2 linked regions of the Homo sapiens genome follow. The protein of the gene in region 2 purifies or fractionates together with the protein of the main gene of each other region. This does not show direct contact. Each region holds a gene or a part of one and is shown on either strand. Other genes may lie near its edges.

The links. Proteins that work in one complex are often made in the same cells at the same time.
Region 1: the proteins of SIDT2 (region 2) and AP3S1 purify together in Homo sapiens (co-immunoprecipitation; 2 studies listed by BioGRID and IntAct, with this or other methods). This does not show direct contact.

What each region holds. Positions count from the first base shown.
Region 1 is NC_000005.10:115,865,629-115,873,681, reverse strand, and holds part of AP3S1 (AP-3 complex subunit sigma-1), read right to left. Parts: intron 7,013-8,053; coding exon 6,921-7,012; intron 3,666-6,920; coding exon 3,554-3,665; intron 1-3,553. UniProt on the Homo sapiens protein: Part of the AP-3 complex, an adaptor-related complex which is not clathrin-associated. The complex is associated with the Golgi region as well as more peripheral structures.
Region 2 is NC_000011.10:117,180,880-117,189,129, reverse strand, and holds part of SIDT2 (SID1 transmembrane family member 2 precursor), read right to left. Parts: intron 7,715-8,250; coding exon 7,593-7,714; intron 7,324-7,592; coding exon 7,159-7,323; intron 7,071-7,158; coding exon 7,025-7,070; intron 6,612-7,024; coding exon 6,510-6,611; intron 6,408-6,509; coding exon 6,324-6,407; intron 5,352-6,323; coding exon 5,252-5,351; intron 5,057-5,251; coding exon 4,991-5,056; intron 3,001-4,990; coding exon 2,907-3,000; intron 2,547-2,906; coding exon 2,494-2,546; intron 1,753-2,493; coding exon 1,681-1,752; intron 1,503-1,680; coding exon 1,431-1,502; intron 423-1,430; coding exon 304-422; intron 1-303.

The DNA of each region.
Region 1 (8,053 bases), on a different chromosome or scaffold from region 2:
AAGCTATGCACTTCCATCTTTGTTTATTCAACTGATGTTTTTTAAAGTGACTGACTCATGTGTGCTCAGTACACTCCCTCTTCAGTATTTAATGAACTGTGGTAATTGAAGGGGAAAGATCACAACCACAGAACTTCCAACATGTTCCTGATAGTGACAGACATAGTACCTATAAGGTGAATTACAGAAATCTTCTTTTTTGTGACACAATACATCAGCATGTGGTAACTCAGGGGTATTGTAAAAACAGCTCTAGCCTACTTTAGTAATCGGAAAATGACAAAGTCCTCCTGAAATCCTTTCTTCTGTATGTTATCTAATATCAAAACAAGTGATCAACGTGTGAAGCATGGATAAAAAATTTTGCAAAACACAAAAGATAGTTTCTACTTTCCACGAGTACATGACAGAATTTACTTTGGATATGATATATTAATACCATGTTTGTTCTTTGAAAACTCCCCATCTAATCCCCTTTGGAGATAGAACTACTTTCTCATAAGAAGATCAACAACAGCATCAAAATAATAATCAATGGTGATGACTTAATCTCAGGACGCAAGCATAAAATACTTCTGATTTACCTCTAGGAAAAGACACATTTGTTTTGGTCTTTCTTAATAGCAACATTTCTCTTCAATAAGAGACTAAATTTGAAATGGTACACTTTCTCCTGTTTTTCTTCCTGTAATTCTAGTGGCTAGGCTCAGGTAAATAAAAACAGTGTTTTGGAACATAGTGTGCATGTCTACCACTCTCTTCAGTCATGGGAAACAGAGAAATAGAAAGCATGGTTCTATATTAATTTTTTTTCTGTAAAAATATAATGCTCTCTTGACATAATGATAAAATGAATTAACTACTCCCCTAGGTGGGATAAACTAAGAAATGTAAGAATAAACAAAGTTACAAGGCAATGCAATATATAGTCCTGATCAACCCTTCAATGTCATCAAAAGTAAGATTTGGCTTCTTTTTCTTTACTAGAAAAGCCTTGAGAAAGCAAAACATAACTCAGCAGTGTTTCTCAAGTAGGCCCCAGGAGGAAAGTGAACATATACCCAAGGGATCTTGGGGCACCTTTACCTCAAGCTCAAAATTTCTTTCAAGTCTCCACTTAGAGCTTTAAATATTATGAAAAATTTGTATTCTACCTCATAATATATACATGTTTACGTTCATTTCCTCACTGCCGCCAATCTTCAAAACAAAGAAGAAACATATACCAGGAATATGTGCCATGATTACCTTGTGGTTTCATGTAACTTTGATACCCAGCTCCTCCCAAAAACCCAGTTTAAGAATTACAGATTTAAGAGTAATATGGCATACAAATAGATCAATTTATCATTTATCTCCTTTTTTATTTTATTAACAATGTTTTTATTTCTATTTTTTTTGAGACAGGGTCTCACTCTGTTACCTGGGCTGGAGTGAGTGGCACAATCTCAGCTCACTACAAGCCATCCTCCCTGGCTCCCGCCTCAGCCTCCCAAGTGATTGGGACGACAGGTGCAGAACAGCATGCCTGTCTAATTTTTGTAGAGATGGGGTTGCCCAGGCTGGTCTCGAACTCCTGGGCTCAAGTGATCTGCTCAGCTTAGCCTTCCAAAGTGCTAGGATTACAGGTGTGAACTACCACACCTGGCCACAATGTTTTTATTTTTAAAGCCTTAGCCACAGTGCTAAGAATTTGTTACCTAAGTTGTCTGCTTGGGTTAATTTCTTGTCTATTCTGTAACGCCAACTAGAGCTCAAACCATGCCACCTTCTTGCTAACTTCAAAAGCCAATTTTATCTGTGCACTGGGAAGCAAGGTGCTAGAAGTGCTAGATATTTTAGGAGAGAGGAGACTGTATGAGTAGTCATCTAGAGGTATGGGAGAGTAAATGGACCGGGGAAACAGAAAATGATTCTTGCGTAGCATAAAGGACTCAATGAGCTAAGGGATCATTAATTTAAAGTGAGACTGGTAAATATGGTTACTTTTTTTTTTCCTCTAGGTATGTTCAGATGTATGGGTGTGGGCAAGGAGTTCAGTGTACACAAGGCTATATCACTACCATGATTATGAAATTTAAGCTGGATAAGGAAAGTAAGACATCAGTAAAATCAGAGTGAAAAAAATGATGGATTTTTAAAACTGAGGGTTGCAATAGGTCTAACGACTTCAAAACTGTGAAATTGAGATTATGGAGGGGTTACAGTTTAGACAAAGATAAAATCTAGAAATGGGTACATAGTGAGATGGAGTGGAGGGCAAAATTTATTGGAAGAGAGGAGTTCCAGATTTTGAAGACACCAGGATATTGGGAGAATTATACATATGAACAATGGAATCACCAAGAATTACAAAACAAGCAGTACTGGAATGAATGCCAGGGAACCAAGAACCAAAATCTATTAGGAGACAATTTTAGATGGATCTTGTGTTTCCACACGTATTGTGAGCAGAGGCATTGACTGTCTTTGTTCTGGGCTATCTTTTTAAGCATGCTTGTATATCAAACAGCCCTGGAAAATAGACAGTGTCTTCTTCCACAGCAAAGGATAGGTTTCCTTACACTCTTGGAAGAGACAGTCTTCCTTCCAAACAAGGGCAGACATGCTTAGTATCCATTATAAAAGATTCCAGTTCCCTAAACTTGGCGTTCCTCATCTGTCATTTAATCCACTGTGTGTGCAGGTATCATCTGGACCTCTTCATATCACCCTTTGGGAATTAGAGAATTCGTGCAAGCAAATGCTGTCACTTTAGCTAATGTTTTTGCTATTAGTAATAAGGTCCTTTGTCTCTGGCCCAGAAATCTCCTGCCTTCTGCCAGCATCCATGAAATTATGGCAGGTTAACTTCTTAGTTTGCAAGTAGAGCAAATCTCAGACCCTTCACAATTCTTAACAAAATCTCCAATGAAGGAGAGATGGAGATGAGTGATGACTATAACTAAATGGATAGAAGGTGGTATAGTCTGATAACATAAGATAAAATTTGGAGGTGTTTGAGAAGAAAGAATGGTCTGGAAAATGCAATGAGAAGCTAAGATTACACCTCCAGGCTCAAAGGCAGAAAGAAGCAGGAGAGAAAATGGCCACTACTTCAAAGGGTTGCACGTAGTATCATCAGGGAAGCAAGATTTAATTTAGAGCAAAATGTAAAGTAATATTAACAGAAGAGGCTGAAGATAAAAAGAAATTTGCTGATGACTGACCTTGAGTTCCAGGGACATTATGAAAGATTTTCAGGAGACAGGGAGAGGTAGGGTTTAGGGTTAGTTTTGGATACATGTGTTAAGAAACCCACGAGTCTTAAGCTCCTTGCTGTAACTTACATGAGCAAGATAAAATGTCATGATTAAACTAGTTATGATAGTTTTAATCAGATCAAATGTTTGCTTGTTTCTATGTCCTCTGACCTCTTTTACCAACACAATATCTATTATGAAATGCTTTATTTCTTACTAACATCATTTTAGAAAATTTAGAATATATAAGTTTTTAAAAATTTAAATGTCAAACTGTTATTTAAGATAGTAAGAAGCAAGTGTTAACTTACTTGAATTAGATCTAAAATGCCAAGTTCACTTTCTGAAGAATCCACACAGAAGACAAAATATAACGTTGCATAATGTCTATAAATCAGTTTGTTGTCAGATCCTCCAATTAATCTAAATGACAAAAAAATTGTAATGTTATTGGAAACAAAATGCGAATCATTTTCATTAGCTCAAGCAAACTGACAATTTGTTTAAAAACCACTTGTCAAATGAAAGGTGACATTCAATGGCAAAGTATTTAAGTGAACTTATTCAGAGACTAGGTGAATTAAGGTGGCTGTTTTCTTCAGAAACATCAAGTAAAAGAAGCCAGTGCTTAATTTCAGTTCATTCATTCATTAAACTATTCTCTGAGTAACTACTATGTGCCAAGCACTGGTAGTGGGGAAGAAGCAACAAACACACACATCAGAACATCATCAGATAGTGGCAAGTGTTACACTGACAATCAAAATACAATGATGATATATTGATGGGTTCCCTACTTCAGGCTGAATATTAAGCAAGAGTGGCATTTAAGCTGAGATCTAATGATAAGGAGTTGGCTTGGAAAAAATTTAGAGAAGAGCATTTCAGGCTAAGGTAGTAAGTACTAAAAGGACATTTCATCAAGAACAAAGTATGTATGTTCAGGGAAGAGAAAAAAGGCCAGTAGATAAGAAAAGATTAGTAAATGATAAAGTCAGAGAAGTAGGCGGAAATTAGATCATGGGGCATTTGTAAGTGCTTACTAGATTTAACTCCATACGTCACAGTAAGTTACACAGCTTAAGACTGATTATCAACCAGAAAAAAAAGAAGAATGACACTTCTTAAGTTTTGGATAGATTTACCGTCAAGATCTCTTCCAAAATTACATTGTTTTGACATAAATGCAAGAAAACTGAGCTAAGATACTAAACTCTTTCATGAAATACTTTTATTTATAATGACTGGAATTTTAGTATTTTAGAAATAATAATTTAGGAATCATTCCAAACATATTTTTCTAAATATAGTTTAGCTATTTCATAGTTAAGTTTACAATAATGAATTCACCTTCTTAAAAGACCCCTAAACACTTACATAATTTACAATCAAGGCTATATGTAACCAAAATTAAACTAACATCCATCCCAACAGAATATGGGAAAATGGCATCTCTCCCTCCCTCCCTCCCTCCCTCCCTCCCTCCCTTCCTTCCTTCCTTCCCTCCCTCCCTCCCTTCATCCTCTCTTTCTCTGTCTCTCTCTCTCTCTTTCTTTTTGAGACAGAGTTTCACTCTGTCACCCAGGCTGGAGTGCAATGGTGCTATCTCAGCTCACTGCAGCCTCTGCCTCCTGGCTTCAAGCAATTCTCCTGCCTCAGCCACCAAAGTAGCTGCAATTACAGGCGCACACCACCACACCTGGCTGATTTTTGTACTTTTAGTAGAGATGGGGTTTCACCATGTTGCCCAGGCTGGTCTCGAACTCCTGAGCTCAGGAGATCTGCACGCCTAGGCCTCCCAAAATGCTAGGATTACAGGCGTGAGCCACTGCGCCTGGCCAGCATCTATTTCTTACACAGTAAAAATAATACTAAACTTATAAGTTCTGTAGAAACAACTTCCCAAGGTATATACTACTTCTATGTCTTCTAATAGCAAAAGGAGAAATGATCTTTGACAAGAATAAAAATTTCCTACTATGCTAGATACTCTTCTAGAGAAGATGTTTAATTTAAAAATATCTACATGCAATTTAAAGATTCTGAGAGTATATTTACAGACTATGACTGCAATTGTTCCCTGAAAGAGGCAAAAAGAACACAAATAGGAGGCTTTACTCCATTCTGAATCAGCGATTTAGTGATTATCTTAAAACTTTTGCTTTACTTTAAAAGGACAGCAAACTTCTGAAGAATATAAGTTTCAAAAAGGCCAGTAATGCTATTAAAAGCAAGCAAAATATTAATGCGGCAAGTACATATTTTGCCTTTAAAAATATAATCTTATCTTTAAGCTATAGTATAATACTGACAAAAATTCCTGTACAGAATGTAATACATCATATAAAACCACAGGACTGAGAAATCCTGTTAGTCCAAATAACTCATTTTATAGAGGAGAAAACTGAGGCCTGAGAATTTAAGTAACCTGTCCAAGGAAATCAGCTAGTTAGTGACAAAACTAGGATTAAACTAGATGTGAGGCCTCATCTCTGCTGCAATATTTGCTTTCTATTTTTTGTAAGGTTAAAAAAGAACAATCACAATTTCCAGCCACAATTTCTAATTCAAATAGCACCCTAGTAAGATTAATCAAGTTCTTACATGCAGTGCACTGTGCTGGGTGGTAAGTTTCCTAGGAGATAAGAAATCAAGAGGCTAGGATGAGAGGAAGTGATAGTAATGTCAAAGACAACTAAAATTAAATAAGTACAAGTAAAATTCAAAAACAGAAGCAGGTACACTTGTCTCAATTATTAAATTAGAAGCCTTGAGTTAACAGCAAAATTTGTAAGTATGTATTGGACATTTAAGGACAGCATGATATAATCTTTCAGGAAACCCAAGTTAAGTGTTCCACATGATAAAAAGTACCTTATGACCATGGATTCCCTGTTATCCAGAGTATTTCTCATCCATCATACACAGTAAAATACAGAAAATTCTAAGTTTCTCTGACTGATTTATGTTTGAGAACAAACCATTTTCATGGAAGTTATTAGTTTAAAAGTATTTGTTTGTAATATTTGGCAATATTCTTATTCATTTTAAAAATAGAAAAATTGATTAGCTGAATTAGGTATATTTGAAAAACAGACTTCAGTCTTGTAACAGTAAAATAAAGAATGTAATCTAATTTTTATGAACATTCACAAAAAGGAATACTCTGTAGTCATTAAAAAGAATAAGCTTGTCCTAGATGTGTTTCTATGCAAAGCTTTTGAAAATACTGAGAACCAGCAACATGCAAATGAGCATACAAAGTGTGATCTCATAAATAAAAATTTTAAGGTTGTAGGTTAGTCAACACATATAACATACTTTATATGTTAGTCAATACAAACTATTTTCTAGAAGGATACACAAGAAATTGGGTAGAAGGACTAAGGTTGAGAGATTCTTATTTTACATTTTATACTTCCCTGTAATGTTGGAATTTTTACGATTTAATATATTACCTTTATATAAAATTCCCTTCCAAAATTTTTAAGAGGAAAAAAGATTGCATATCTTTTAAAAATAATTCTTTAAGTTAGATTTATAGCTAACATAGGTGGCAATTAATTCACCTAATCCAATTAATCAAAAGTAGAAAACTTTTACCATAAACTGATTAAACAGTATATATTTTAATCACATAGTCAAAACTTAGAAATGTCTATGAAATGCTTTACTTACAATCCTCCTTCTAGGAAATTACAAACATTTTCATCTCTCTTAGATACCAAATGGAAAGTCTCCCTGATGATTTGCTGTTGTGTATCTTCACTCTGAGGAAGAATAATTCATATATATTAGGATGGAGTGTATAGGTTTAATAGCATTTTAAGAATTTTTAAAATCAAAGGTAGCAATATCTGTCTGGGAAATCCATCTAAGAGAGGGGTCCTTGGAGAAGTGACTTAAATTATACCTTACAGAAGCAAAACCCAGTATTTTTTGATGAAAAAGAAAAAAAACCCAATTATTTATATTTACCACTATAATAAAAGTAACACATTTCTAAGTTTCAAAAACCAACAAGAAAAAATATTAGATGAATTACATACACTGGTAAAAGGGAAACTAGATATTAACTAGTCAAAGCTGATTATCTTACAAATGAGTAAACTGAATCAGAAAGGTAAAGATATAAATAGTGTAGCTAATCTATATTTGAATGGAGGAAAGAAATAGAACTATGGAGCTTCCAATTAAGTTTAACCTTTACTAAATATAGACTGAGGTAAGAGTCCATCCATCTTACTCATCTTTATATAAGCCGATCTAAAGCCAAGGATTGGGTCAATAAACATTTATTAACCTGGACCAAGCAATTCATATTCCAGTAAGAGTCAGCGTCCTGGCCGGGCACAGTGGCTCATGCCTGTAATCCCAGCACTCTGAGAGGCCGAGATGGGTGGATCACAAGGTCAGGAGATCGAGACCATCCTGGCCAACACAGTGAAACCCCGTCTCTACTAAAAATACAAAAATAGCTGGGTGTGGTGGCACGTGCCTGTAATCCCAGCTACTCGGGAGGCTGAAGCAGGAGAATCGCTTGAACCCAGGAGGCAGAGATTACAGTGAGCTGAGATCGCGCCACTGCACTCCAGCCTGGCGACAGAGTGAGATTCTATCTCAAACAAAACAAAACAAGAGTAAGCTTCCTAAACACTGCAATAGAAGACTGACCAAAATCATGAACACCAATTTCACAGGAAAGGATGTGAATGGTCCACAAAGAAATGAAAAGATACTAAATCGCAGTAGTAATTAAGTGAAATACAAATTAAAACAATGAGATAGCTCCACATGTACCATATCAGCAA
Region 2 (8,250 bases):
GGGAGAAGCCCCCTCCCCCAGGTTAGAGGTGGACAAGAGGGGCCTCCCTCACACAGGGCCGAATTCAGGGGGGCAGGGTTCAAGGACATCCCACTGCTGCGGCCGCTTAGACCAAGAGGGTTTGGCCAATCAGGCCGGAAGGGGTTGGAGGTCAGGTTAGTTTCCCCGGCATCTGCCCTGCCCCAGCTGAGCCCCTTCCTTCTGCTTCCCTAAATGCCACGTCAGTGGGAACATGCTGGGGCGGGAACGCAGAATGTCCCTTTCTCAGGAAACGCCTGACCAGGCCAGGCCCACGGGTCAGACCTTGGTGCGAATGACATTCTTGTCGGAATCGATGTCGGTCAATGTGTCGTAGTCATCCTCCTCCACAGAGCTCATGGAGTCCACTCGGGGCCGAGTACCTACAGGTTCAAAGGAGCGGCCTGGAAAGGGCAGGGAGGGAGGGGTTGCACCGGTGGACACAAAACCCACAGTGGCCCTCGCCCATCTGAGGCAATTGTAACAATTATTAGGCAGTAGGGAAGAGGCAAATTGTGGGCTGGGCCTCAGAGTTGGGGTGGAAGTGGGCTCAGGAGCTGGGAGGAGACATCAGGTGCTCCTAAGTCCTGGGGGATGATGGTAGACTCTAGAAGAGGCCACCACACAGGGGCCGCTCTAGCTTTGCTCTGTTCCTGGCACCCCTCATGGGCTAGGGCTTCCCAGGCCAGGACACAAGGCAGACCCCAGGCAGCAGACACAAACAACAGGATTGAACTCGGCAAGTCATGCTGATTCAAGGGTGCCCAGCCCTGTGGGTTCTGAGAAGACACTGCCTTGGCTGCCACTGGGTTAAAGACCCAGTGGGCCTGGGGTGCAGAAAGAGCATTTCTCCTTTATCCAGAGGCCAGAATGTGACCCCCATGCCTGTGAGCCCTCCCCAAGCAGGCCAGGGAGTGAGGGCGCTGGCAACGCAGACGATAAACTAGATTGTCCAGCCTGGAGAGAGCGGAGGCGCCAGCCCGCCAGCCAAAGGAGCCTGTGCTCTGCTGCTATCTCAGAAGACACAAGAGCGGGCAATTACTGGAATTACATGGGGAAGCCATGCACATAGAATCTTTCTGGCCCCACAGCCGGCAGTCAACCGGAGCCGGCAGGCACTGATTGGCAAAACAGCCCTACCCCCACCCCAGGTCTACCCATGGCAATGCACAGCTGCCGCATCTGGCCAGAGGGGAGGCGCCGCTTGAACTGGTCGTGCCCTTCAAAGGAAAGGGAAAGTTACCAGGGAACTGGGGCCAAGGAGGAGGGGATGAGGGAAGAGAGGGGTTAGGAAGACAGCAGGCCCTTCCCAGGTTCCAGCATCTGGCAGAAGAGGCAACCGCCCACCGTGACATTTTACCCAGACAACACCGTCCTGCACCACACCGCCCCTCCCAGCCTGGCCCACTCACCCTGGTAACCGTAAGAGAGGTCCCCAGTGCCAGCGCTGTCAACCAGACCATCGGTAGATCCAGAAACATTCTCTGTGGGGAACGATCAGTGGTGAGGCAGGAAGGAGAGGCCGCAGGGAAAGGGGCTCTGAGCATCTGCAGAGGGTGTGGGGGCTGGAGGAGGTGGCTCCCACTTTACCGCCTCGGAGGTGGTGGCCTAAGGAGACAAGGTCATGTCCCCAGCAAGCACGGTGCTGGCTTTGACACGTACCAAAGGAGCCATAGTTGTAACCCTCATAAGGGGAACTGCCAGGAAAAGAATCAGCCAGGACTCGAGGGTGACCTGCAATGAGAAGTCAAGGTCTGTTAGCACTGGACGAAGAGAGAGGCCTAGAGCCAGGGAGAAGAACAAAGAAAGGTCCAGAGAAGACAGCCACAGGGAGGCCATGCCAGCAGACGAGAAGCAGCACCTATCCAGGCAAACACACCCCACTGCTGCCACCACCACCCGCCCCAGCCCCCTGCCTGCCTCTCCCATGGAAACAGCACCACCCTTTGTCTTCCCTAAGGAGAGAGAAAGTTCAAGAACAGGCACATCTAAGTTACCAGCAACAAAGACAACACTGGCCCGCCCACGAGCCCTCCAGACAGCCCTGTGCTGCACCCTCCCTCCCCTACTCTGGACTCCAGCTCCTCTGCCCACAGCACCTGGAGCTTACCAAGGAGAGAAGCTAAGAGAGAAGGTCCCACGCAGGAGGGAGGACAGAAAGAGAGGGAGGGGTGGAAGAGAGAGAGAAGGAAAGGTTAATAATCCCAGAGACCGTGGGCCACACTGCCCAAGGCAGGCAGACACCATCGCTAGACATGGAATAAACCAAGCAACACCTCAGCCTCTGAGGTGTGCATGTTAGGGATGCATGGACATCATATCCCAGCCTCATTCCCATCTGTGGAGTGTTACCCCCATCTGAACATCCAGAAACCCCCAGCCCTTCCTCCTCCAACCCCCTAGGGAACCATCCACCACCACCCCCCAAAACACAAAGCACACTGTGCCCGCCCCACCCAGGCCCCCTGGAGGTACCGCTTTCTGGGCAGGCTCGGTCAATGGCCACCAGCAGGGTCTTCTTCTTCTGCCTGCATGGACAGAACCCACAGGCCACCCAGATGGGACAGGACAAGGATCACTCTGTATGGGGCTGACTTTCCTTCTACCTCTCTGCTCCACTCTCATCGCTATGACCCTGTCCTCCACCCTTTGTCCCAGGGTTCCTCACAGGCTGGGGAGCAACATGGGATCTCCCTGCTTGGGAAGAAGGTTGAGGGGAGGGGATGGTTTCTAGAGAGGCTCATGGGCCACAGACTCTAACAGCCCCACCATCATCTGCTATGGATGGTGTAGATTACCCTAGGCTGGCTCAGATCCTGCCAGGTGATCTGCCCCACACACCTGCCCAAACCACCCAGACCAGGGGAGGCCCAGCAGTTCCACTTTACCTCCAGTTCTCCCAGCAGGCCAGGAGGACGGTCAGCAGGTAAAAGGAGAGAAATATACCCAGGCAAAAGAGCATCCCACTGACGTATGCCTCAGCTTCAAGGAGGAAACAGGAAGGTGGACAGGTCAAAACCTTCCACCACCTCCCATCATGGCACCCAAAGGCCTTCATGTCCTCCTCCACCCAGCTCAATCTCTCACCCTTCTCCCCTCAAATGTAAGGCCCTGCCTAGCCAGTATGAACAACTGGCAGTTCCTCTAATACACCAAACTCTGACACACTCCTATTTTTGCTCATGTTGCTCCCTGGGCTAGAACTTTCTCTTCTACTTTTTTTTTTTTTTTTTTTTTTTTGAGACGGGCTCACTCTGTTACCCATGCTGGAGTGCAGTGGCACGATCATAGCTCACTGCAGCCTCCAACTCCTAGGCTCCATCCTTCCACCTCAGCCTCCTGAGTAGCTGGGACTACAGATGTGTGCCACCACGCCTGGCTCATTTTTTTATTTTTTATAGAGATTGGGTCTCGCTATGTTGCTCAGGCTGGTCTTGAATTCCTGGCTTCAAGCAATTTCCCTGCCTCAGCCTCCCAAAGTTCTGGGATTATAGGCGTGAGCCACCGTGCCTGGCCTCTCAAAAATTCCACCTTGACTTAACCCTCAAACCACAGCTCAGGGACTGTGTCCTCTAGGAAGCTTTCTCTGTCCTGTATTTCCACAGTGACCTGTTCCTTGCTCACCACAGCTCTTAACTGCCTCCTGTTCCTCTAGACAGGACCCCGCCCCCACCAAGGACTGCTGCCTTAGCATACCACCTGGCATATAGGAGGTGCTCCATAAATATTTGCTGAATAAATAATCCATGTAAGAGAGGCACCCTGGCCGGGCGCGGTGGCTCACGCCTGTAATCTCAGCACTTTGGGAGCCGGGGCAGGTGGATCACGAGGTCAGGAGATTGAGACCATCCTGGCTAACACGGTGAAACTCCTTCTCTACTAAAAATACAAAAAATTAGCCGGGCGTGGTGGCGGGCACCTGTAGTCCCAGCTACTCGGTAGGCTGAGGCAGGAGAATGGCGTGAACCTGGGAGGTGGAGCTTGCAGTAAGCCGAGATTGCGCCACTGCACTCCAGCCTGGGCAACAGAGCAAGACTCCATCTCGGAAAAAAAAAAAAAAAAGAGAGAGAGAGAGAGGCACCCTCTGGCTGGGCACGGTGGCTCATGCCTGTAATCCCACACTCTGGGAGGCCAAGGTGGGCGGATCACCTGAGGTCAAGAGTTCAAGACCAGCCTGGCCAACATGGTGAAACCCCCGTCTCTACTAAAAATACAAAAATTAGCTGGGCATGGCGGCAGGTGCCTGTAATCCCAGCAACTCAGGAGGCTGAGGCAGGAGAATCATTTGAACCCGGGAGGCGGAGATTGCAGTGAGTAGAGATCTTGCCACTGCATTACAGCCTGGGTGACAGAGCAAGAGTCCATCTCAAAAAAAGAAAGAGAGGCACCTTCTTTCCCCTCCTATCACAGTCCCTTAGGGCCCCATTTAATCATTCAGTAAATATTTATTGAGCACTGAGTAGGGGCCTGGTACTTTCCTGCTAATTTTATCTGCTAATTTTGTGCTAGCCCTCATAACTTAGTGAGATTAACTGGACAAATTTTACTCCCTCTGTTATAGAGACAGGGAAACTGAGACTCAATCTTATAGCAGTGTTTCAATGACAAATTAGGGTATGTTTCTGAATATGAGATTAAGAAACATCCTTCAGAATAAATAAGATTATAACTATGCTAACAAAGCAAAATTAAAGCTCTTTCTTACAATCAGGTTACACTGCTGATAAGTGGCAGAAAGTGAACTGGACCTCAGTTCTTCCATCTTTAGTCATGAACTCTCTGTACCACATCACACTGGAACTCACCTCCCGGCCCTCCCCATCTAGAAGCCTGCCAAGAACACTCCCCGTTCCTACCCCACCAGCATATCTGCATCCTCATCACCCACTTCAGGGCACACCCTATATCCCAGGTCTGAAAGCAGGAGCCAGAGAGGCTTGTCCATCCCCTCTCAGCCACCTGCAGCACTCACACGTGACTGCTTGAGACACCAGCACTGACAGGGTTTTCTGGCGGTGCCCTTGATCGACCGGTTCATCTGGAAGTAAAATGTCAAAGTGGTAAACTAGTTGCCTGGAGCTTGGCTAGAGTCAGTGGGATCAGGCCTTTGAGAGACTGGAGCCAAAAACCCATGTCCTATCAGGTCCACCAATCAGCCACGCAGGCTCTTCTTGCTCCCAGAAAGTGACCAAGACCTCCCCATCCCTAGCCAGGCCCAGGGCACAAAATGTACCTTCTGCGAAGGGGTAGAAAGGCAGGGAGCCCCCGCAGGCTTGGTCTTCGGTCTTCACCACCACCACCACATAAAAGCTGTTGCTGGGGAAGTCTTTGCGCTGCAGGATGATGATGATAAATATCTTCTTCATCATCATCATCATCATTCTTTTCTAAATACTTGTTCTGGGGCCAGACATTATGCTAAATTCTTCATAGATATATTTTACTTAATCCTCACAAGATTTTTTTTTTTTTTGAGACGGAGTTTCACTCCTATTGCCTAGGCTGGAGTGCCATGGCATGATCTCAGCTCACTGCAACCTCCGCCTCCCGGGTTCAAACAATTCTCCTGCTTCAACCTCCCAAGTAGCTGGGATTACAGGCGTCCATCACCACGCCCAGCTAATTTTTATGTTTTTAGTAGAGATGGGGTTTCACCATGTTGGCCAGGCTGGTCTTGAACGCCTGATCTCAGGTGATCTGCCCGCCTCAGCCTCCCGAAGTGTGGGATTACAGGCGTGAGCCACTGCGCCTGACCTTTTTTTTCTTGAGACAGAGTTTCACTCCTTTTGCCCAGGCTGGAGTGCAGTGGTGTGATCTCGGCTCACTGCAACCTCTGTCTCCCAGGTTCAAGTGATTCTCCTGACTCAGCCTCCCGAGTAGCTGGGATTACAGGCATGCGCCACCATGCCCAGCTAATTTTTCGTATTTTTAGTAGAGACGGGGTTTCAGCCTGTTGGCCAGGCTGGTCTTGAACTCCTGATCTCAGGTGATCCGCCCACCTCGGCCTCCCAAAGTGCTGGGATTACAGGAATGAGCCACCGCGCTCAGCCCTCTTATTGTTACAATGAATGAAGTAGGTATGACAGCCAGAAGGGGGTACTCTACTCTTTCCCATCCCCAAGAGCAACTGGGATTATGGTACAACTCTCATATATATCAGGGGACTCAAAGTCACAGGGACTGGAAGGCCAAAGACTCAGTCGTGTGTAGGATAGGAATGGGCAGAGGAAGAAGAGCTCAAGTTTGGAAAGCTACACAGCTTATCGCCCAGCCACACCTCCCACGTGGCCACATGCATTTCCTACCTGTACGGTGATGGCCGCCTTCTTGGTCATCGTCTGGTACATGCCGATGAAGGCTACGTTGTTGTCCAGGTCATAGACAGGACACTGCAGAGGGGCGGGAGAGGCAGATGGATGGGAACCTGGCCTGCCCCTCTCTTTAGCAGCCCTGCTGCCTGCTGGGGAAGAGCAAAAGGGCAGGCAACTCACCAGCACATCCTGAATGGAGATGACTGAGCAGGGGAAGGCCTTGTTGGAGGTCACCTTGACAATTACCGAGTCCACGCCTTCAGGGAACTCATACTTGAAGTACTGAGGGTGCAGGAAGGAAGGGAGAGCCCCATCTCATGAGGATGCTCTCTTGGCCCCTCTAGAAGGGAATAGTCCCCTATAAGCGAGGACCCAGAATCCTCTGAGGGGTGGGCAGTGGAGGCTCTCCGAGGAGACAGGCCTTGATCACAGCAGCCCCTTTCTCTGTATACCATTCCCTTCAACCTCAGCAGGGCACTCAGCAGAATGCCAGAGAGGCAACCAGACTCCATGTCTCTGTACAGTCCCATGCTGTCTGTCCCTCACCATGTCAGGGCCAGAGCTCCTGTTTCCAGAGAGCCCTCCATGGAGAAAACAGCCAATTCAAAAGGCCAAGCAAAGACCGCTGGCCACTCCCATTCTCATATTCAAGCTCCCCCATTTCTCCTCTCGAGCAATCAACAGGGAGATGTTACCTGGGGCTGTGCTGCTGTGGTATTGAAGCTGAACTGCTCCCCAGTCCTGCAGGGCAGAGAAGAGCCCCCACCAGTCACCCCCGGAGCCTGGGGAAGAACCAGCCCCCGTGGTCCCCTCACTCTACCCTGCAGACCTGAGCACAAAATCGTCCATGCGGCTGACCCGGAGCTGGTATGTGGTGTTGACTGGTGACAGGGTGGACACATCCACGTAGAAGAACTGAATCTCCGACTCATTCTTGGTGGGGGGCTGACACAGGGTTCGTTCCACTTTTTGGTAGAGGTACTTGCGCTGAAACCTATGGCCCGAAGCAGGGAGATAGGATGTGAGCACTGTCCCAGCCGGCCTGCCCCTCCAGAGGAGCGAGGCCCCACCTCGCCCCGTCTGGTCTCCACCACCTCCCTGCGAGGTGCACAAGCTCCCGGCTGGTGGGACTCGGCCCTTGTGCTGTTGACCAGCCTCCCAGCCCAGGGAAAGGGGAGGAGAAATGGGGGGGCTCCTGGTTGAGGCTCCAGCCAAGGACTGGCCTAGGCTGCCCCGCTTCCCTGATGCCCAGATCCTACTCACATCCCTCGCAGGATTAGGGGCACCTGGAAGGACACCACAGCCTCCTTCTGGCGGACCACAAACAGCAACGGCGCCCCCTTCTGCTTGTTCAGGACGTTCACAGACACACGCACGCCCTCTGTCTGCAGAACGACATGGAAATGCCTCTCAAGCCTCTGCCACCAGGGACACGTGGCTCCAGAGACTATGAGCCCTGCCCTCCTTCATGCCAGCTACTTTGGTCTTTCTCCATCTTGGTCGGGCCAGGGAGTCATCTCTGCCTCTTCTTCTGCCAGAACAACCCCCAGACTCCAGGAAAGACCTGTGCTGAGTGCAGCTCCTGGCCGGCAGACATGTGCAGGGCAGCAGGACCCAAGCAACCGCAGGGTCTCACCCTCTGCCAGGAAACACGGTGGAGGCCTTGCGAGTCTCCAGGATACCCCATTCCTATCCATGTGCACAGGATGCACAGGCCTGCACACACAAACGTGTACACACGCCCCCACACACGAAGACACAGGAGAACAAGAAGTGCTCCTCAACCTTCCTGTGAGCCAGGAAGCCAGCAGGAAGCTCTAGTTAACAGCTAACCTGGGGCCAGAGCCCAGAGGAGTTGAGGAGGGGTAGGTATTGAAGGCCATGTTGTATCCTTAGCTCCCACCAAGGGACAGGGCTGTGG